Regions from separate parts of the Homo sapiens genome. Here all the other regions are linked to region 1. The links come from fine-mapping of genetic effects on gene expression. A gene starts in region 1. Each other region holds a variant in brackets. All regions are shown on one strand. Distances are between the middles of the regions.

Region 1 (8,190 bases):
GAGTATCACTTTTTCACACCATAAAAATTTCTAAAATACTGTATTTTAAGAACACAAACGATCCTTTTTGGGACTTCATCAAGATATATATTCTTGCCTTCCACACAGAGCATCATCCACTATAATACATGAATGACAAACTTTATATAAATCTTCCCTGAGATAATGCTATGTGTTATTCAGCAATGAAAAACATCAATAAATTGTCCTGCTTCCATTCCCACTACAGTAAAATTATATAAAAATATTAACATATATGTACCTTAATCAAAAATAATAGATGCCTTACATAACTAAACCACTTCTGCCATCAATAGGCAATCCATTCCATTTAAATTCTTAAGGTGAAATACCTGGCAGATCTCAAAACATTTTACTGGTTTTGAACAGGAAGTACATTTTTTTTTCTTCCTCACACTCCAACTGTATTGGGAGTAACGCATGCTACTGGGTGATGGTGACAGAACCCTAAAGAACATCTCCTTCTTTTAAAATGTTAACCACTGCTTCTAATTTCTGAAAAATATTTTTTGCCCTTTCAGTATGTGGCCCAATATTTTCACCAATGATGGATCTCAGCTTCTATTCAGTATTCCTGGAATATTCCACACCCGATGGTAATTTTTGGTCTTCCTTTAGTATTATTCTAAATATTCGTCTTTGTTAAGAGCCACCTTTCCAAGACCCTGAAACTGCATTACTGAGTGTAAAATGACCACATATGGTATGCACAAACACAGCACAGCACGCTGAAAAATACATACATTACCGGCTGACAGACACGGGGGTAATCACACCAAGCAAACACAATAAGCACTCTTTCATTTATTTATTTATCTATTGCTTAGACACACTCATCAAACATATTCAGTGCCCACTGAGCCCAAGGCAGTACACAGCACAGATAATATCTGTTAGGTGGCTTCAGCAAACTGGATTATGTCAAAGTGTGAAATGTGAAGTGAATCTGACTTCATCAAATAAACTGAACTCCAAGGCCATTTCCCAGCACTCACTCCCCCACCTCAAACACACAAGCTTAACTTCGCCCTCCTTCCTCTTCTGATGCTCAGACCATGACTTCCTTCTCATCCTTCTCTTCTCTTCTCTTCTCTTCTCTCTCTCTCTCTCCCTCCCTCCCTCCAAGTATTTCAGCAGCTTTCCTCAGTTCTCTGAGCCAATCCCTCGGAAAAGGAAATCAGCAAAATGCTGAATGGGGAGACTTCACCAGCAGGTGAAGAGGAAAAGAAGAGGGTGTGGTACTCGTTTTCTCCACCACACCCCATCCCTGGAGTCTTGCACTCCAGTCTACTGCGGCTCAAAGCGGGCACAGCAGGTCCCCTAGCTCACCTCGGAGCAGCCTGGCCCAGACCAACCACCCAGCGTTCTCCGCAAAAAACTTCCCTTAAAGCAGCCAAATATTCAAGGGAGGCGGGGGAAATTGGGCATTAGTTCGAATACACATACAACAGAGCACCACGGAGCAACACTGAAAGGCACCTTTTTTAGATACAGACCCTATAGACTCTCTCTCACCCTTCACTCCCTCCCACCCTGAGTATCTGACTGAGAATTTACAGAGAACCAAGAGGCGAAAGGAGAGTGGAGGAGAAAGAGGGCATTACCTCCCGGGGCTGCCCTCAGGGTGCGGGTCAGGATCTCATCCCCGAAGTGGCTCCAGTTCAAGGCACAGCTTTCCAGAGCTCAGCCGGGTTCGGACCTGCGTCCCCGCGGCGCGGTGCGGAGCTCGGAAGCGCGCCGGGACTGCCGCTCACGTCCCCCGCCCCTGCCGCGCGGGCTCCGCCACCCCGCGAGCACGCTGGCTCTCCGCGCTCACCCCGCCGCCTCCTGGCGCCCCCACACCCACCCGCTCCGCGGCGCCCGCTGGGAGCCTCTAGCGGAGGCGAAGGGAACAGCAGGCGACCTGCGGCGCCCAGGTTCCGACGCCGGTTGCAGGGAGCCGGCCAAGCGGCAGCGTGGGCTTCGCGCGCCCCCGAGTCCGCAGGCCGGGTGCCGCCGCCGCCCCCACCTGCCCACCTGCGCCAGGCTCACCTGCCACCGCGTCCTAGTTGCGTTCACCGGTGCCCACAGCTCTCTATGGCAATTGGGGGTGGGTCTGCGGTGCTAATAAAAATTTAAAAAAAAAACCTCTCTGGTAAAAAAACGAAAACCCAAAACCCAAATCCACGCTGTATATCAACCTCCACAGAGAACCCAGTCCGAAATCGTTTTCCAATAGGTTTCAGAAAGTGTGAGGACAGGACACTCCTCTGGCTTCCTGCCTCGCAGCTGGGCAGCGCCGCACCGGCTACTCCCTGACTTGCCAGGCGGGTCGTGCGATCGCGTAGCGACGCCCGGAGAGATCCTCCTAACTTGACTTAACCCCCACCCCATCCCCAACATCTATTTTAAGTTATTGTCTCTGGCAATTCAAGCAGCAGCTTTGCTGCCTCTTACCTTGAGGCGCTGTTAATTCTCCTTCGTGTCCTTAAAATCCCAAGCCAAGGATGCGACGCACACAAGTCCAGGGGCTTTTCCTGGACTTCCCCCTCCTCAGCTCTGAAGGCTCCTCCTTTCCAAGGGATCAGGAGGGGATGGCGGTTCAAAAGCCCTCACCATAGAGGCGCCTCCAAGCCTTCGTACCAGTGGAAATGGAGACCGGGACCACCTTCCCGGCACCCGGAAGCCTCCCAGCCCCTCCTGGGCCAACTTGGCTGCCTATTCAGTTTTCTTCCGTAACCCCACAGACACGTCAGTCAATTCCCTGGCATCAGGCAGGATATTCTCAGTTGCGGCCGCTCCTCTTGCTTTCTCTCGATAATGCCCCTCCCCCCTTTCTCCCCTTAATTTGGAAAAATTTCTACTCCCTGCCCGAATTAGGTGGGGATGAGGCGGAAAGGTGTAAGAAGAGCCACTCCAAGGCACAGCTTCGGAACACCGTCTCCCTGGGCTGCTGCAGCGCGAAGGTGTCTACGCTGGGGAAACTTTCAGGGGAGGCAGCGCCGGTGCGGGGCTGGGCGGGCGGCGGGCGGCGGCGCCAGGTGAGGAGGCTTTGAGGAGGCGGCTGCAAGGCGGGACGCAGGATAGCCGGCTGGGGCTTGGCAGCCGGGCTCAGAGCTCGGGCTGCGCACACACACAGGCGCGCACACCCGCGCGCGCGCAGCTACACACGCACGCCCAGCCCTGCGCCCGCGGCCCCCGGCCAGTGGCGAGCGAAAAGTCGGGAGTCCTGAGGAGGGGTAGGGGTTCCAAGGATGCTGATGACAGAAAGAGTCAATCAATCCTCACTAGTTAGCGGATTGCCGGCAGGCAGTTCCTCGCCGCACGCCGTTAAGTCCGTTGGGCCACCTCTCCGTTCTCTGCCCTGTCTGGCATTTCAACTCCCTAGCTCTTTTCTTGAAGCCAGTTACACCCCCTCGACACCCAGCGAGAGGCCACCAGACTAAAGATGAGCCCCGTTCCCATCGCCACCCTCCAGGGGCCACCTCCGCCCCTTCTGTAGTGGAGAATTGAAGTGGCTGCAGCAGCTCTCCTGGGAGCTGAGGGGCTCCCCGAGGTCCTTCGAATAGAGGAGCCTACACATCGCTTCGTGAACATAATCCCCTCGCATCCCGTCTTTACCTGCCCACTCCCTTCGTAACATTTCCCCCAAGGAGCTCCCGAAAGTCGCTTAGATGTTTTGAAAATGAATTTCTTAGGGAATTGTAGTGCCTAGCTTTTGGAACTGGGTTAATTTAGGTGCTACGCTTATATTGTAAACTGGACGGTAGCAGGTGAACGGCTCAGCTGGAGAAAGGGGAGGGATTAGGAGTCTGGAGACCCAACCCCTTTAGCAGCCATTTCCAAGGTTTTGCACCAGGAGTAGCTGTCCGGGTCTCTGGCTAGCTCCTGTCCCAACTTCTTTTTCTTCCCTCGACGGTCGGGAGGGATCACTGGGTGCTACACCGCTGGGGCGTCCCAGGCAGGAGAGACTTCGCTCTCAGAAGCGCCCCCGTGTCATCCACAACTCCCACGAAAGGAGCTTCCCAAGAGGAGTTTGTTTTACCCGGAATGGGCTGCAGGAATTAATTGCTTACAGAGAGTAAACTTTTGCCCGTTGTTTTTTTGTTTTTTGTGCTTTTTTTAACCAAAGCTTGCATTTGTGCTCCGCGTAGTTTCTATTGCAACAGAGCGCTACTCTGCCTTTTCAACTGTGAGACAGAGGATTGCTGAGGATTTCTGCCCTCTGGGGCTTCGCGAATATCTATGGCTTCGGACCTGCTAGCGGAAAACGCAAAGTTGCCCAGCTTGGAGATGGCACCAGGTTCCTTTGCTCTGGCGCTGGATGCTCCGCTCCGCCACCCACCGCCGCCGTCTCCATCGAGAATCTCCTCAAAATCAAGGGAGTTCTTGACTGTCCCTCTCCAAATTGGAAGGCGGTTGACTTTGCCGGGAACCGAGTTCCTGAGCGGCAAACGTGGAGTCGCAGAGCGCAGAAGTGAAGATTTAATACAAAAGATGAAACTTGTAGGATGACCTCTAGCAGCGCTACTCACAGCTCTGAAATCGATCCAGAGCATTCCACAGTGAGCGTTGCGGCTCCCAGGGGCTCCGGACCGGTAACTTCAGGCGCAAGTCTGAATTTCAGGGATGAACCTGCTTTGGATTCTGTTTGAGCCGACTCAGTGCAGAGGCAGTGACAGGGGCTGTGGGTTTAGGGGTGATGGATCCATGAAGGCTGCCACTTGGAGCGAGCAGACAGTTGGCGATACCCTCCCACTAACTTGCTCCGCTGCTCCGGGCTGTTCACAGACAGACCCACGCGTAAGGATTTAGAGTGTGTATGTCCAACGCCCAGACTTAACTTCTGGTGCAATTAAGGGAAGAGCTTGAAGCTAACCCGCGCAGCTTGCCTGAAGAAGTGAATAATGAAATCGGTGATGAGGTGCTAAGGAATAAAAAGAGGCATTTTGTTTGCGTGTGTATTAGTTTGCCAGGATTGAGTTTTTAGGTTTGATGTCCTAAAATGTATCTTCGACAGTGACTCTTTTGCAGCCTTTCAAGAGGAGGATGTTCGGCAGTATTTTGGAACCTGGTATGAATCTATACATTGTCTGCGTGCCGCAATATTTGATGCCTCTTCGAGTTCTAATTCTTATTCCTAATTAATAAATGACTGTTCCTGATAATGAAGTGGGAATAAGAATTATAATAAACTATTTCCAACAAAAGGCCATCTTTAACTTATGATTTCTGATTGTATAAGCCTATCAATTACCAATAAAATATTCTGCAGACTATTAGGCATGAATTGCAGAGCTGTAATGAAGAGACTCACTTGGTTCAAGAAAATTCAGAATTTAGAGCGACTCCTCTCCAAAAAGGTTGTGACTTCAAATTCCTTTCTTGGTTGCTGTTGGTATGCAGGCCACTGTCTGCAACTGAAGTTTCTGTTTAAAGTAAACATAGGTTATTTACATATTCATTAACTTTAATACGTGAAGGGTGCCTTACAGTGGTAGGAAATGTTGTGGAAAGTCTTGTACCAGCCATGGCGAAGTCTTTTTACTTGCTTTGAGTTTTTGATGTATGCGATGTGTATGCAGTAGTGGTAATCCATAGCATAATATTCTTGACATTTAAGCACCCTCAAAAAAAATAATAAAAACCTGTAGATTTATGGATCCTGTTCAAAAAATGGAAGAGGATAAGGATCACCCTTTTCCCCCTCGCCTTTTACATTTTGCTTTTATGGGGGAAATTATTTAACAAACAAGGAGAGCAAACCTCAGGATCAGAGGATGTACCCCATTCCCGCTACCCTTAGGTCTATCTATGGAATTGAAAAGAAACTATTGAGACTCAAAGATACTGTCAGATCCAAGAATCTGATTTCACCACCAAATTAAAATAACTACAGCATTATTCCAGTGTTGTCTATGTATTTATGTTTTCTGATAATTGAATTTGAAATATATGATATCTCTTCCAATGGAAACATCTTGATCCTTTTCCCTCCTTAAGATCATTTCTCTACAAACTGCCATTTTCAGAACACCTTTTACTTCTCTAGAGCATAGCATTCAGTCTATTGGTGTACTGTCTTTTCATAGATAAAAGCTATTCTTTCTTTACTGGTATGCCTTTGCTACTGTACTGTGAGCTCTGAGAGCACGGATCTTGTCATTTACATTGTTGTTCCCCAGAATCTATACAGAATCTAGTACACAATAAAATAGATGTATATGATGATGATGATGATGATGAAAGCGACCATGTATTGAGTAATGACTTAATGACTATGTAATGTGATTTATGTACATTATATCAGTTGATCCTGTTTACAACCTGCTTACCTAAATTTTATGTCCTCAAATTACAGGGAGATTGAGGCTTATGCAAATTTACCTAAGGTGACAAATCTGTTTTGTCACAATTAAGTATGGAACCTACACAGTATCTTTCTGACTCTGAAGCCTGCACTATTCATCATTTTGCTCTGTTCAAATAGCCAGGTCCCCACATTTTCAATTATTCAAGGCTAAAAGGAATTTATATGTTGTTAATGCTAAAAAGAGGCAAATTTAAAAATGAGTTCCTTACCTCTCATGCAATCGAGTCAATATCTATTTGAGTATCAAAACACAGGACCAGTTTACTTCTCTTATTGGGTTAAAATAGGAGAGTGTCTTCTTGGCATTATTTTCATGGGAATGCCAAATGCTGAGTTATGGGTTTCCTTTCAGAGAGGGGAGTCAGGCCATTGGGAATTTTATGGATATAGAAAACTTTTTATTGTTTACTTCCATGTTGATACTCTTATGTAAAACAGAGGAGGCTATTATAAAATCTCAGTTGTGTAAGATGAATAAATTCTAGAGATCTATTGTACAATAATGTGCCTATAATTAACCATACTGTATTATACACTTAAAAATGTATTAAGAGGACAGATCTCATGTTGGCTAATTGCCACAATTTTAAAACTAATAAAAATAAAAGCCTCAGAACACAGACAACACTGAATACAGAATGACATAGGAACATGCCATAGAAATGTGTTATAGTTGTCAATTTCAACAGCTCATATTATAAAACATCTTTTATACCTTGGATCATTACAGTACAAATACAAAATATCCATATCATGGAAGATTAAGCTGCTATGTAAAATAATGAGGAAATTCTCCTTAATTGGTATAAAAAGGTCTCCATGATATTTTTAGGTGAAAATTGCAAGGTGAAGCAAGGTGTTGTCTCCAAAAATTAATAAAATTGGTTGGGGTCATGGTGTAAGTGGGCAGATGGTATCAAAGGTAGAGGTTAGACTTTTTATGTTCTTTTGATTTTGGAACCGTGTGTAAGTTTTACCTTATAAAATAAAAGAGTGCCTTTGAGGGGTTGCATGGAAAGAAAAGTATAACAGATGTATCTCCGCCTTTTACTTAAAAAAGATGTTTGTTGCTGTTGTTGTTGTTGTTTTTAAAAAGGGTAGGTGAAAGTTGTGAAATAACCTGGCCTGCAATACATTTGCTCATTTACTCCTGCCAGGGAGAGACCTTGAGGGAAAGAAGCAAAAAGGGGTTTCTTAGTTCAGACTACTGTAACAAAATACCACCGCATGGGTAGCTTAAATAGTAGGAATGTATTTCTCACAGTTCTGGAGTTCTGTGAGAAACATTTTTCACAGTTCTTGGAAGGCCAAGATTAAGATGCTAGCCAATTTGGTTCTTGGTGATGGCTCTTTTCCTAGCCTGCATACAGCTGCCTTCTAACTATGTCCTCACATGGCCTTTTCTCAGTGTGTGTTGGGGGGAAGAGAGAAAAAGAAACAGAGACATTTCAGCCACAGTTTATATAGCAACTAATCCTATCATGAAGGTCCCACTCACATGACCTGTCTAACCCTAATTACCTCCCAAAGGTCTCATCTCTACACACCACCACATTAGATGTTAGAGCTTCAGCACATGAATTTGGGGTGGGAAGAAGGTACAACGTTTAGTCCATAACAAGTGAGCAGGTCTAATCTCCTTGTCAATTCTACCTCCCCTGGGTAAATAGACTAATGGTATTTGCTAGAAGGAAGAGGGTTGTCTTTGGGCCCTTAGTAGGATATCTGACTAAGGATTACCTATAATAGATAGAACCAGAATTTATAAGGGATGGCTTCCTGGAAAATGGCATATAGTGTTTGCAGTGCTGGGGTAT
Region 2 (8,190 bases), 68 kb after region 1:
TTTTATTTGCATTTCTCTAATGATTAGTGATGCTGAGCTATGTATGTTGGCTGCTTGTATGTTTTCTTTTGAGAAGTGTTTATTCATGTCCTTTGTCCATTTTTAAAATGGGGTTATTTGTTTTTTGCTTGTTGATTTTTTTAAGTTCCCTATAGATTCTGGATATTAGGCCTTTGTCAGATACATAGTTTGCTAATATCTTCTCCCATTCTGTAGGTTTTTTGCCCTGTCTATAGTTTCTTTTGCTATGCAGAAGCTCTTTAGTTTAATTGGTCTCACTTGTCTATTTTTTTGTTGTTGCTGCAATTGCTTTTGAGGACTTAGTTGAAAATTCTTTGCCAATGCCAATGCTGAGAAGAGTATTTTCTAGGTTGTCTTTCAGGATTTTTATACTTTGAGGTCTTACATTTAAATATTTAATCCATTTTGAGTTTATTTTTGCATATGCTGAAAAGTAGGGGTCTAGCTTCAATCTTCTGCACGTGGTTAACCAGATATCCCAGTACTTTTTATTGAATAAGGATTATTTTCCCCATTGCTTGTTTTTGTCAGCCTTGTCAAAGATCACCTTGTAGGTGTGTGGCTTTATTTCTGAGTTTTCTATTCTGTTCCATTGGTCTATGTGTCTGTTTATTTTGTTTTTGCTTTTGTTTTAAACCAGTACCAGGCAGATTTTGTTACTGTGGCTTTATAATATAGTTTGAAGTTGGGTAATGTGATGCCTTTGGCTTTATTCTTTTTGCTTAGGATTGCTTTGGCTATTCAGGCTCTTTTTTGGTTACATATGAACTTTAGAATAGTTTTTTAAAATTTTTATGAAGATCGACATTGGTGGTTTGATAGGAATAGCACTGAATCTGAAAATTGCTTTGGGCAGTATGGCCATTTTTACAATATTGATTCTTCTTATCCATAATAAGCATGAAGTGTTTTTCCATTTGTCAGTGTTTTGTAGTTCTCCTTGTAGAGATCTTTCACCTCCTAGGTTAGCTGTATTCCTAGGTATTTCAATTTTTTGTGGCTATTGTATATAGGATTGTGTTCTTGATTTCACTCTCAGCCTGGTCGTTATTGGTATATGGAAATGCTACTGATTTTTGTACATTGGTTTTGTATCCTGAAACTTTACTAAAGTTGTTTATCAATTCTAGGAGCCTTTTGGTAGAGTCTTTAATATTTTCTAGGTATACAATCATATTGTCAGTGAAAAGAAATACTTTGACTGCTTCTCTTCTTATTTGGATGACTTTTATTTCTTTCTCTTGCCTGATTGTTCTGACTAGAACTTCCAGTACTACGTTGAATAGGAGTGGTAAGAGTGGGCATCCTTGTCTTGTTTCACTTCTCCAGGGGAATGGTTAGAGTTTTTGCCCATTCAATATGATGTTGGCTGTGGGTTTATCGTAGAAGGCTCTTATTATTTTTATTTTTTCAAGATAGGGTCTCACTCTGTCACCTAGACTGGAGTGCAGTATGATGGTCCCCACTAACCACAGCCTTGGCCTCCTGGGCTCCAGCGATCCTTCCACTTCAGCCTCCCAAGTAGCTGGGACTACAGGTGTGGACCATCACACCCAGCTAATTTTTGTATTTTTTGTATAGACAGTGTTTTGCCATGTTTCCTAGGCTGATCTTGAGCTCCTCAGCTCAAGCAATCTGCCCCCTCAACCTCCCAAAGTTTTGGGATTACAGGCGTGAGCAACCACACCCAGACTGCTCTTATTATTTTGAGGTATATTTATTTCATGCCTAGTCTGTTGAAAGTTTCTTATCATGAAGGGATATTGTACTTTATTAAAACCTTTTTCTGCATCTATTGAGAAGACCATATGATTTTGCTTTTGATTCTGGTTTATGTGGTGAATCATTAAATTGGTAAATAATGTAGTAAATCAATAAAATAAATGATAAATCAACATTTATTGATATGCGTATGTTGAATCAGCTTTGCATCCCAGGAATAAAGCCTACTTGATTGTGGTATATTAATTTTGATGTGCTGCTGGATTTGATTTGTTAGTATTTCGTTGAGGATTTTTGTGTCTATGTTCATGAGGGATAGTCCAGCCACTGTGGAAAGCAGTTTGTAGATTTCTCAAATAACTTAAAACAGAAACCCCATTCAACCCAGCATTCCCATTACTGGGTATGTACCCAGAAGAAAATAATTCTACCAAAAAGACACTTGTACTTGTATGTTCATCACTGCACTCATCGTAATAGCAAAGACATAGAATCAACCCAGGTGTCCATCAATGATGGAATGGGTAAAGAAAATGTTATACATATACACCATGGAATACTGTGTAGCCATAAAAAAAAATGAAATCGTGTTCTCTACAGCAACATGGATGGAGCTGGAGGTCATAATCCCAGGCAAATTAATACAGGAACAGAAAACCAAATATTTCATGTTTTCATTTATAAGTGGGAGCTAAACATTGAGTACACATGGACATAAATATGGGAACAAGAGACACTGTGGACTACTAGAGGGTGAAGCGGGGGCTGGGTTACAAAACTACCTATCAGGTACTGTGCTCAATACCTGGGAGATGGGATCTGTACTCCACACCTCAGCATCATGCAATAATCCCCATGTAACAAATCTGTACATACACCCTCTGTATCTAAAATAAAAGTTGAAACAGAAAGATAGAAATGTTGGAAATTTCCAGGAAATACTAGTTTATTGCCATCACTAAACTGAATAAGTTTATTATCCTAAAACTGGGGTATTCTTTTCCCCTCTAATGGTCCACCTAAGAGAGATACTGATTCCTATGACTCATAGTTATTTATACCCTTAATTAGCATTTTTTGCATGAGAACCAATTTATGTAAAATAAAACTATTTAAAGTGACATTTAACAAAATAGTTTTAAAATATATCTTTTAAAAAATGATAAATGATCATTTAAAAATATCTAAACACTACAATAGAATTAAAAAAAACACCAATACCAAGAGAGCGTATCATTTAACAGGAAACAAAAACATATTCAATTCTCTTTTACTTTACTAATTCCCAAAGGGAAAAACTAAATGTATACAACTCTAATAACTTTATTGTACAAAATACTTCTAATGGAAAAAAAAATTGTGTGTGTGTGTCTGTGTGTTTCATATTAGAAAATTAGCAAGAAGGAGGCAGCTTTCTAAATTCTTATACTGAAATTTAATTGAAGACCATATTGTGAGCTCCATTTGACTCATGGATCACAACTTGGTAACAGCTGATATAAACCTATAGCCTACACATCATATTATTTGTTCTTATTTCCAATTCTGCTTGTATGTTTAATTAAATAAGTTCCACTGCCAGTTAGGACTAGCAGCCTCAAGGTTTACCCTTTGATTTCAGTCAACTTAGTGATAGGTTTTTCCGTGGGAACAGTGCCCCTAGGATGCCTAGACACAGCCCACAGTCCCAATGAAGTCTGCAATTTTGTGCTACTGTGTACCTTGGAAACATATCTTTTAACCATCCTCTAGACCCTGGTTTTGCAACTTCAGAACTATTGACATTTCAGATCAGATCGTTTTGGGTCTGTGTTGAGGGGAGGGGTGTTTTGACAATCATTAAGCCATATTCCTGGCTTCTACCCACTAATTGCTAGTACCACAAGCCTCTGTTAGTGACAACCAAGAATGCCTCCAGTCACTGTTAAAAGTCTCTAAGGGGCAAAATTAACCCAAATTAAGAACCACTGTTCTCACCCTTAACTTTGTTGATTGATGATCCGAAGTTCTTACCTTTTTAAGCAATATATCAAATATTGTATATCTTTAAAATGTATGAAATTCCATTCTAACACATGGGGTTTAATTGTTTATTTGTTAATCCTTTGGATGGGTGCTTTGAGGAATGTACATGGTTGGGCTCATTGAAAATATAAAATTTCATTCTTAATAGTCATAACATTAAAGTTTAATGTGAAGAACATTTACCATGGTCCCTTTTGAAGGACTCTGAAGCATAAGGCATACTGAAAACACAACACTTAGCCAATCAAAAATCCTACCTCTTGAAGAACCAGACTCCTTAAGAAAATAATGTTCTATCTTCACCCTAAGGAAATATAACTCGAAATTTTGTCCTAAGAATGTGGGCAGCAAACGGTAACTTACAATTATTGAAAGATCAAGCCCTAGCTTTTTCTCTATTGGAGTTTCTGTTTAAAGGAGAATGTGTAAGGCCTTTAAAATATTTAAGAGGT[C/T]TCTAAAAGAAGGAAGTGGAGAGAAACAAATCATGACTATACAACCCTCAGGCTGATTAAGTCAGAGCTGAGGAAGCATTTTATTTCCTCTCTGAAGTCCTAATCTTTTTCTCCTAATTGTATTTTCTTAGGCTGATATGCTTTAAATCTCAGATCACCTAAGTCCTGATTTACTAATTGTCTATTCCATTTTTTCAATCACCCTTTCTTCTCTAGTGTATCACTTCTGACAATCTCTCCTTTTCCTACTCATTTAACCTCAGAAGTGTGATGTAGATCCAGGATTCTATTAGAGAATGAGGCAAAATATTACTAAACTAACCAACCAAATATATGTACTATGTATTTTTTACTGCTCTAAATATAGTTATTAGCAGAATATCTCATTTTTAAATCAGGAGTTATGCTATATATTTAAAACAAAAATATGAACAAATATGAGACTTATCGCTTACTGAATTCATGATTTTGAGCAATTCCTTTATTTCTCTGAACTTCAGTTGCTTTTTTGGTCAGTGGGATAATTAGGATAAATGAGAAAAAGTAAGAACTTTTCAAGGTTATGCATACTCATTTTGCATATAATAAATGCAAAAACATCAGTCCTTAGTAGGTATTCAAGAAGAAAGTCTCCCATTCCCAGTATCTTTTACAATGAAAATAATTTATGATTTCATAAACCTCTGCTCTGGCTTTTGACTGAAAATTACTTACTTCTAATTTCAGGGAAAGTATATTGAAGCCAGTACCAGCACTTGGATTACCAAAGCAAAAACTGACTGCTAAAACTGTCAAGTGACAGTAAGTGATTCAACCTTCTTTTTACTGGATTGTTTTCTGGTTAAGTTAACACACATTTCAAAACTTAGCCAGAATCGCTGCCTTTTGGCTTTGACATAGAACTTAAAGTGATGCTATTTCAAGGGAAACTGCAATGCAAAGGATGTTATGTTGCCTTTACTTTAAGGTTCATTCACTCTGACTTTTACATGACTTGTTAGACATTAGCCTCCCTGTTTTGAAAAGGCCAGGTACATCAGGGTTAGTGCAGAGGGTGAACACTATTAGTTTGCACTTTATCACTGTCATCCAGCTGCTGAATGGCTGCATTTTACATTATACAGGTAATGAAAGATGTCAGAGCTATTTCAGGGAAACGGTTCCTTCACAAGTCAAAACTCAACAGAGGACTCATGGTTTCTGATTTTCAGTAAGAAAAAGTTTTTCTGTCTAAGTCCCTCAAATAGCCTGCATTCAATTTTCAATGAGAATATAGTAATAATTGTCTGAGCGCATATTGTTAAACAATTAATGAACTCTATGACAGAATTGGTTCAGAATTTATTATTTTAAAATGTAAGTAAATATAAGATAAACTAAAACTTTGCTTCAAATATTTGCTTTAAGCTGGATTTTAATCAAAACTAAATATCATAATGAGATGCACATTGTGCTGTTATTCATTCTTTTTGTTAACTCAAATGACTTTGAAAACTTAAATAACAGCATGTTCGCTCAACACTGTGCTGATCTCACTTGCTCCCATCTAAGCACAGCCCAACAAGCCGCCATACCCAAACTCTGACAGTTTATTGGGGCATTAAGCAAGGATTTTATTTTACTTTATTACATCTTATCACACTTTTCATTTTTTATTCCACTATGGTAGGCTCATCTTCCTCTCACACTGCCAGAGGCTACCGATCTGTAATACAGCTCAGCTTCAAACCCACTCAAAAGAAGAAAGATCAAATGAGTGAAAATGGAAGCAGACCATAACCATTGCTTCCATTCAAACTCATAAAATTTCTGCACCCGTGGGGGATTTCTTAAGATCCTAAACACAGTCTTCAGGGAAGAACATGAATTATATGTAAGGAGATTTGGTTTCCAATTCTGACCCTGATGTTTACTAGCTGAAAACACTAATATTTCTGGTATCAATATTTCCATATTTACACATTAATAATTGGACTAGATAATATTAGGTCACTTATAGCTTAAAATATTATTCATCAAACAATAAGAGACTGCTTACTTTTTAAGTAAATAATTGTGTACATGCTCTTTGTTCTCAGTGAAATACAAGCAGATTTTTAAGCTCTTGGAATGTTTTGGCAGTAATATCACTTTATAAGTAAATATTTGCTTTTGTGATGGTTAATTTTATGTGTCAACTTGACTGGAGCATGATTGTTCCCAAATATCTGGCTAAACATTATTTCTGGATGTGTCTGAGAGTGTCTCTGGATGAAATTAGCATTTGATGGGGTAGACTGAGTAAGGCAGATTGCTATCCCCAATGCTGGTGGGCATTGTACAATCCTTTGAGGGGCTGAATAGAATACAAGGGTGGAGGACCGCAGAGTTCACTCTCTTTGCCTGACTTATTGAACTGGGACATTGGTCTCTCTTGTCCTTGGACTGGGACTGACACCATCAGCATTCCTGGTTCTCAGGCCTTTGGACTTGGACTTGAAATACACCAACTTTCCTGGGTCTCCAGCTTATGGACAGCAGATTATGGGGCTCCTCAGCCACCGTAATTATGTGAGGCAATTCCTTATAATAAATCTCTTACTAGATATACAGTTGACCATTGAACAATGTGGGAGTTAGGTGTGCTGACTGCTCCCCATGCAGTCAATAATTCATGCACAAATTTTTACTCCCTAAAAGCATAATTACTAATATCCTACTATTTACTGGAAGCCTTACTCATAACAAAACAGTTGATTAGCACATATTTTTATGTTATATGTATTATATACAGTATTCTTACAAAAAAGTGAGCTAGAGAAAAAAGTTATGAAGAAAATTATAAGGAAGAGAAAATATATTTGTTGTTCATTAAATGGAAGTGGATCTTCATAGATGTCTTCATCCTCATTGTCTTTAAATTCACTAGGCTGAGGAGGAGAAAGAAGAGGAGGGGTTGGCTCTGCTGTCTCAGGGGTGGCAGAGGTGGCAGAGGTGGGGGGTGGGGCATGAAAGAGAAGGCAAGAGAGGTGGGTATACTTGGTGTAACTTTTATTGAAAAAAATTCACATATAAGAAAACCCAGGTAGTGCAACCCCATGTTGTACAAGGAACAATTGCATCTATGTATATATGTGTATGTGTATAAATATAGATACCGATATTAAGAAAGAGATATATCAATAGGATATATATGTGTGTATATAGACATACATAGTATATATCTAGAAAGAGATATATCCAATCAGATACATACTGTTAGTTCTGTGTCTCTGGAGAACCCTGACTATATATTTTTTTTCCAAAAAGTGGACTTTTCAAAACTAATGGCAAATTCTTAATTCCTTATATTGGATTATACATTTTTCATGTCATTCAAAACAATTTTGCCTATATTACCTTGTTTTTTATTTATTTTTTCCATTTTTTAAGAAATTTGGGACTCACATGATATAACTGTTAAAAATCAACATCTTATTATGACATATAGTATATGTGCATAAATATTACTTTGCAGTTTAATAATAGATGTAATGAGAACCCTTTTATTGTTACTATCACACAGATGAAGTACTAGACCATTCCCGGAGGTCTTCCTCTGTCCCTTTTCTGTGCCAATTATCAGTTAATTTCCTCACACTTTCAATCAAACCCACCCTGTTTTATCTGCTCTGCCACAAGGAAGTTTTAAGCATTTTTTTCTTTGCTGCAAGCACAATATTAAGCGATGTCAATAGAGGGCACTGGAAGAACTTCGTGGGAGGAAGGGACTTCTGATTCCAAAGGCCAAGAAGCCTTTGGCTTCTTGCTCCTACTGTGTGGTTTGTAAATATGTGCCACCCTGATGATGAGAGGATTCTGAACATGGTGGTTCCTGGACTCCCTCTTTGCATTTATGAGCCAATGTTGGCCTTGGCCTTCCTGTACTCCAGAGGGGTTGTCCAGTGATTGTGGGCTAACTTTGGCTTGGAAAACTTAGTAAGGTTACTAT
Region 3 (8,190 bases), 350 kb before region 1:
GAAGAATATGCTCAGTTTTGCACCACCCTCTTTTAGCTGAAACACACAAGAAACACTGAACATTTATTTTAAGTAAATAAAACTTAAAAATAAATGCATGCTTTCTATATTATATACCAGTAAATTTCATTTAAAAGAATTCCTAATACAATAACTAGCATGACATTATGCAGGATGAAAAAACAGGGTTCTGCTCATCAAAATAAAAGGGCATGGTTATTAATATAGATGTCAGGAGTAGGGAGTAGAATAAATAATAAAACTATATGTAATTCTCACATCCATATCACAGTATATAAGTGTTGCTGGGATAATTTGTTCTAAAGATATCCTCAGTTACTTAGCTTCCCACTTTATACTCATATAATCTCATATCCTATGACACAAGCTTACCAATGTTACAAATCTGCCCTTGTACCCCTGAACTTAAAATAAAAGTTCAAAGGCAATCATTAAATGAGTTTAACCTGAGTGTTTTTTCCTCTGATATTTGTCCAAGTAAGTATTTTTTCATATGACTGCTGAAGTCCAAGAATGTTTATAAAACTAAATTCTATATTATACATATTAGGTTCAACTCTGAAAGAAAACCACACCAATAAAAAATGAAAAACAAACAATAAAGTTACTCTCCTTTGCAAAATAACCAGAATCCCACCTTTTAACTTTTATCTAAAGAGCAAAAAGAAAGGTTTCATTTATAATTAATGAAAAGAATCTATAAATCTTCCCAGCCTAGTAAGCATAATATCAATCAAGTAATTCATGCTTTTGAAAATTTCAACATTTTTCAAAGTAACCATCAAATGTCAACATTAATTAAAAGTTTGCTTTATAGAAGCTCATGAACATAAGAGTCCTAGGCAGTTCACCACTGTCAGTGTAGGTCACTGCTCAGGAATACCCTACTCACCTCCACCAACCACACATATAACAACCAAGCCAAACTTGCTAAGTATCTGAATAATTAAAAATATTTAAATAAAAAATTTGTAGAAAATATGTATGTATGAAAAAAAAATATTTGTTTTGCGCTTATCATGTGCCAGGCATAGTCTTGGTTAGATGCTGGGGATATAAAAACTCCAGGTTTCAAGAAATACAAAGGAGAAAACAAGAATTTGAAAAAAGCAGTAATAGGTGTTATGAAAAGTTTCCATATAGGGCTAATGGAGACATGGAGAGGCCACTTAATTCAGTGCTAAGAGCGTTGATTACAGATGTCTTCTCTAAGGGAATACCATATATAAGAGAACTGAAAGAGTAGCAGGAATTAGCAATGAGAAGGGTGGGGTAAGTGTTCTAAGCAGAAGAGAACACATATACCACGGCCTATCCAAAGAAATAACGTGATTTTTATTTTATTTTTTGGTATACTATAGCTGAAAAGGAAAACTGCTGCTACAGTTAGAGTAGGTGAACACAAGTGAGCATCACCAGATCAGAGGCAGCAGGGACAGAAAAATTTGAAGTAAGAGAACTCCAGAATAATGAGGCAACCTGTCTGAAATATGGGCAGAGTAAAGGAGCAGTTATACAAAGGTCCTCCAGCTCTTCATCAAGTGTCACACTCAATCCCAAACTGGCCCAGGCAAAACCTCTTGAAGAATCAGGCCAGTTTCCCCAGTGAAATTCAGGCATACTAGTTGGGTGGAATACATTTAGAGTTTGACATGGGTTTAAAAACAAATCACCCTGGCCGGGTGTGGTGGTTCACGTCTGTAATCCCAGCACTTTGAGAGGCCGAGGCGGGAGGATCATGAGGTCAGGAGATCGAGACCATCCTGGCTAACATGGAGAAACACCGTCTCTACTAGAAAAATACAAGAAATTGGCCGGGCATAGTGGCTTGCGCCTGTAGTCCCAGCTACTCGGGAGGATGAGACAGGAGAATGTCTTTAACCCGGGAGGCAGAGGTTGCAGTGAGCCAAGATCGTGCCACTGCGCTCCAGCCTGGGTGACAGGGAGAGGCTCTGTCTCAAAAAACAAAACAAAACAAAGAAACAAAAAACAATCATCTCAACTTAAAGAGATCTTAAGTGGCTCTTTGAATAACCATTCCAATCCAAATGTAAAATTAAGTTGATCCAATAATAATAGTGAAATAATCCAGGGTGTGTTTTTACAATATTTTATACCTCTTGTTGCTATTCTTTCACTAAACAAGACAAATATGCTCTCCATATGTAGCACTCTATGTTAGTCGGGTACTTGGCTTTGCTTGGTTTGTGAATCTGAATGCAAGAAAACTTCATGCAAGTCCCTCTTTAGACAGCATTCAGCTAATTTAGAAAATTTTCCCACATTTTCTGTCAAATATGCTCTCTATTTTATATAAGTAGATAAATGATATGCACTGAGAATGAAATGTTCTGGTTGAACTAATTTTCCGGTGCACTGATTATTAGAAAACACCATTTTTTCAAACTCTTGCACTATTTAACTTCAAAAATAGGCAGTTATTTTATAATGAATTACCATATTGAATGCTTTATTGTATTTTTTTAAGGTTATCCAGAACCCCTGTGTCATTTTCTACTTGTGGTCAACATCTCTGTTAATAACCGTGCATCAGTTATTCCATCTATGCTTGTGATTTGAAAAATAAGGTCCCTAACCCCAAAGGAATTCAGAGTACCACGGGGCATACAAAGTGATTCTGAATCTGCAATTAGGAACTATAGCATAAACCCTATAATCAATGCTATGAAAGGAATATTTTCCAAGTTCTAAGGCTGCAGAGAGGAGGAAGGCCAACACCCAGGGCACCCAGGGCAGAGAAGAAGGGTGGTGTGAATTAGACTTAAGTGCTACACAATATGGTACATTGCAGGCAGTTACAGGATATGAAGTAGATTGATATTTTTGCTTTTGCCAAAAAATTCTGAGTGCTGTTAGTGTGAAAATCACTAATGTGAGCATGAATTCATATAATTAACTTTATTCTCTTACTCTTCTATCACCGGGGGGTAAATTCCAGCTAATGGAGAATTCTTTTTAATTGGGCTCCAACTAGGCATCAGGTTTATTAGAGGACAGACGTCGTTGGTGGGGTCTTAAAGTGAGTAACTTAGTTCTGATTCAAAAGTATAAACAGAAATTTATTCTGTACTATAGTTTATTTTCTAGATTCATCCTTATTTCTTAGAATCTTGTATCTTACATTTTTCAACCCACACAAGCAAGAAAACTGAAATAAAACAAATAAGGTAGAGATAATATCAAAATACAGGCCATAATATCAGCTCTATTTAAAATAACTACTGCTGGTGACAGGAAGTAAAACAGCTGCAGAACTGACAGAGGAATCTGCAGTTAAGGGCTAAATCACACCACTAATATGACAAATGCTGCTGGTAAACTGAGTGGGAAGGCAAGTTCAGAAGGAAGCCTGCATCCTTTCCTGGTGATGAAAGCTAAAAAGAATGAAAATAGTAGAGCAAGTAAAATAAT[A/G]CAAAATAAAAATAGAACAGGAAATGAAAAATGCATATACAGTAAATACAATCCTCCTACTGGTTATTTTTTTCTCCCTTTTCTCATAAAATCTCTCTTTTGCCCTGAAATATTGAAAATAAACAATGCAAGTCAGGGTATAAAAGCAAGTGATTGCTAACAATAATAAGCAAGTGCTAGCCATAGCTGAGCTAAATATGTGGCAGGCTCTATGTCTTTCAAGTAAAGAAAAAAAAAAAAAGAAGACAAACTCTTACCCCTACTGCACCAATGTAAACATTTGCCATAAATTACAGAGAATCACAAAGTTATTGGAATTTTAACTATTTTTTAAAAAGAAAAACTTTCATTATCAAGCACCCATAAAGCATGTGTATTACTTCATTTATTTCTGATTTCTGACAACAGACAACACATAATCCCTGCCTTCAACACGTGGCAGTTGAGGCACACAAAAAAGTGTAATCTGTCCAAGGTTAAACAAATGTTTAAATAACAGAGCTAGATTTGTCTAAAAGCTCATGTTTTGTCTTTGCCCCATAACGTCCCAGTATGCAACATTACCTATAGTGTTTGTGAAATATATAGAGAAAAGAAAATTAGGTAAAAACATAAAGTTTGAATTATAAATTTTACACAGAATCAAATATACATTTGCCCTACAATGAAACAATTCTTTTACCCAAAAATAATAAAACATATTAATAATACTTAAACATTTTGTAAAAGCATCCAGTTTACTTAAGACAAAGTTTTCAGGATTTTATGTAAAATATCCATTTATACAAAAATAGATAATATCTCAATTACAAATCTTTCCTTTCTTACTCATTATAGGTGATCCCTAGAGGCTTGGAAGAATGTTGTTAACCTAGTGTGTGTCGTTAACTTTGCTTACACTTAATAAAGTCTCCTGCCTTCAGAAGTATACTATGACTTATTTGCCTTCAGCTGAATATGCCTTTCTGTGAATAAGTCCTCATTGATGACATTTGATTTTATACTCCAGGAAGTATTTTTCAGTCATTGAAGGGTTTAGTTCACTGTCAAAGATCATTTGTCTAAGCAGTAATATCTAGAGATCCAGTTTATAAAGTGGACCTCTACATTTACTCAGAGACTACATAGAATAGTGAGTGAGTGAGTGAGCATGTGTGTGTGTCTGCATGCATGTGGTTATGTGTGTATGTTTTCTCTTTTGTTCTCCCTGCTTCAAGATTGATGCCTTTCGAAAGTGGCATCATGGGTAATTTTCTGTCATCTGAGAGATAACTCATCCTACTTCAAATCTGTCCACATAATAGTCCAGTGTTTTGTAGGTAAATTTAATTGTTTAGTTATTTGAAGAGAATAAATGAGTGCCCCTTTGGAAAGGGAATGAGAGAACAGAAAACAAATAAGCATTTTAAAAACATGTAAACTTTCAGTGCTTATTATTTCTCTCATTAATGAAAATCTTATATTTGGAACAGCAGTTCAGCTGAGTAACTGCAAACATAATTTGGTTCCTGTGGGTTGAGTTTGTTCCAAACCTCAAAGATTAAATTTTGCAACTGAAAATTAAGCTTAGCACTGTGGTTTTGCAGATGAAGATAGAAAGTAGTGGAATATATTATTTAAGCCCCCAACTCACAACATTTGCAATATTTAAGTGACTATATACACAATTATCATTTACTGATATATTTGATGGAATTTATATCTCGCTGATTTGATAATATAACAAATTTCCAGGCCTGCTTTTAGCTCAGGACTATTTGTTAAATATGGGATAAAAATAAATGATATACTTATTAAATACATATTTATCACTGCCAAAGATCAGGCATAGTTAGAACACTGAATTCAAATTTAGTTTAAATTTGATAAACATCTAATTATCCATTCATCAAAGATGTTTTGAGCCCCTACTATGAGGGAAAAACTAGGCTAGACATTGAAGAATCAAAGGGAATACTTAATGTTCCATCCTTCAGGGAGCTCAGAGTCATCAGGTAAACTGACAAATCTGCAAATATTTCCAGTACAGCCATAACTGTAATGACGGACAAGTGTAGGATCCTACAGAAGAAGTGGCTAATCAGAATTAGACAATAAGAAAGGTCTTTTCAAAAGAGACGAAGCCTGACTTCTATAGAGGGTTTAAAAGTATTTGACCAGGTGACCAGAGGATGAACAAGGAGTGGGGGGAGGGGTCACAGAAAGAAGGCTATTCCAGATAAAGAAAACAGTACTTGCGAAATTCAAGAGACAATGTGTCTGAATTAGGAACTACATGTTAAATTATGTATGACAGAGAAATAGCAAGCAGGAAGAAAAAAGATGAAAATTAGCTAAAAGTCCAGTGGTTTGAACTGTGTGGTAGACAGAGCCTGAGGAAGAAGACACAAGATGCATGAGAAATGGCTAGTCCCTGTCTTCAAGGAGCCCACAGATCAAGAGGTGATCAATAGGTCCAAAATCAATAGGTGATCAATAGGTCAAAAATCAATAGGTGATTTTGGACAACAATGTCTCCTTCAACACTGCAACTCCCACTGTTGCACCTACTACAAATAATAAACATAGCACCCTTTTCCCAATTTCCCACCAAGATTCAGTACCCTATGGGCTCGTTTTACACCCTACCCTGCCTTTCGATTCTTCCCTCCCCTTACATAAAAATGTCTTTAAAGGAAAGGACACATCAGTCAATGTTCAAAGCCAACGTTATTATACCTGATAAATAAAAGTATTAACAGTAAAGCTAAAAACACTTCAGAATCAGAAAAAAAAAACCCATAACATGCATTTATATTGAGTCCCTCCTTCACTCTTTGAAGGATTTGTTACTTTATTTTCCCATTTGTAGACACATGGCCAGTTCATTGAAATGGTACACAATTTTTACTCATTTTCTCTAAACCATACCTGATATTTGTAATCCTCTGCTTAAATACCTCATTTTCGAGGCACTGCTTTTTCATAAAATCCACAAAGTTTATTACGATCTGACAACAATCGAACTGCACAACATTATTTTTTTCCATTCCACCCCATGTGTGTCATCTTCCAGTCCACCTGTACTTCCCACTCTAACCTAAACATATAACTTCATGATTGTGAACATAAAATGACTTTATGTACTTCTTGCATTTCTCCTCCTAGAAAATTCTTGTTCAATCTTAGACACAGCTCCAATATAACGTCCACTGTGAAACATTCTCTGACTCCCCATACAGAGGTTATAGCTTCTATCAGGACCCCACAGACCAATGTTCCTACTGCTAGTATAGTATTTTCTATTCATGTGTATTGGTTTATACGTTTATCTGTCTTCCAATTCTTTGACCTTCTGAGGTCATAAACTGTGCCTTAGTCATCTGGAACAGAAAAATACCTGATGTGGAGAAAATATTTGCAGCTTATATACCGTACTTGGTGTCTATAGCAATCATAAGTAAAAGCATAAAAAGAAGCAACAAAAAAGGACATAAAACCATAGAAAAGTAAACTAATTATTTGAACTTTTAAATCGTACTAAAGAAATATCAACAAGTATGGGAAAATGCTTCACTTAATTTATATTTTAAAAAAGCAAATGAAAACAGCATCAAGATATTTATTCCATCAGATTGGCAATAATTAAAACATGTATCAGCCAAAGGCGACAGAAAATAGAAATTTTGTTTCATTAATAATAGTGTAAGTTGCCATGTTTTTTTGTACTACATAGTAGGAAATGTCAAAATTTCAAAATGAACACACAATTTTATCTAAAAATTCTCCTTCTAGACATCTACAGAAATGTTTACATTTGAGTAAAATATATTGACAGATGATGATTGTGGCAACTTTTAATGAATTAAAAGTGGGAACCAATTTAAATATTTATAAATAAGGAAATTGTTAAATAAATTATAATTCAATATTGCTATGTAGATACTAAAGGTATATAATAATGAGGTAAGCCTAAATTATATTTAAATAATATATAAATACTTTAAAATACAGCAAATCTATATGAAAATGTGGCCATAATAATCTGCTAATTGAAAATGAAATTAAACAATAGAACAATATTCATAATATAAGCTCATTGAAAATATATATGCATATAGAAAACACTCTAGAACACACATACCAACTTCTTTAAAATGTTTATTTTTAGGAAATAGGAATGGAAAGTGGGAGGGAAAGCAATGGTGGCAGTAGAAAGGAGATTTCAACATTTTACTTCATATACTCTGTGTTACTACCTTAGTCATATGACAATATATTCAGCATTAAAATATAGAAAATAAGAAAATGAACTATATATTTTATGTAATATATAAAAATATTAAGCTTAGGAACACTGTCAGCTATACTATAGTGTAACCAAATGATGCTTACATTTGCATCTTCAAACCTCTGAGGTTTTTATCTTTGCAGCACATAAGATGACAAGTAGAAGGAGCAATCTACTGAAAACACTACATAAGGAGTGAAATAAGCATGAAAGAATGAGAGACGTTGGTTCAAATCCCAGTTCTGATGCATTAACTGGGTGAACTTTATATGTTGGAGCCTTACCTTCTTAAATATAAAATATGAATACTAGTACTTATCTCCTATGGTTTTGAAAATGCTTGGTTCATAGTAGATGCTTAATAATTTCTACCTTATTTTATCTTCTGTTACTTTATAAAACCTACCTTATTTGGAGATTAATAATAAGTTTTGCACCAAGATGTCTTTTACTTGAGGGGAGTGTCA

Evidence for each region.
Region 2: its variant is fine-mapped to the expression of LINGO2 in whole blood (TOPMed, PIP 0.98).
Region 3: its variant is fine-mapped to the expression of LINGO2 in whole blood (TOPMed, PIP above 0.99).

Annotation. Positions count from the first base shown.
Region 1 is chr9:29,210,465-29,218,654 of GRCh38, forward strand. It overlaps LINGO2 (leucine rich repeat and Ig domain containing 2), which reads right to left and starts at 3,137. Exons shown (of 7, transcript NM_001258282.3): 1 at 2,458-3,137. RefSeq lists a silencer at 1,728-1,777.
Region 2 is chr9:29,278,064-29,286,253 of GRCh38, forward strand. No RefSeq gene overlaps it. Among named protein-coding and RNA genes, the nearest start is that of LINGO2, 69 kb to the left of the region's middle. The variant C/T (reference allele first, on the strand shown) is at 4,221.
Region 3 is chr9:28,863,804-28,871,993 of GRCh38, forward strand. All of the region lies in intron 2 of LINGO2 (leucine rich repeat and Ig domain containing 2), which reads right to left. Among named protein-coding and RNA genes, the nearest start is that of MIR876, 4.2 kb to the left of the region's middle. The variant A/G (reference allele first, on the strand shown) is at 3,454.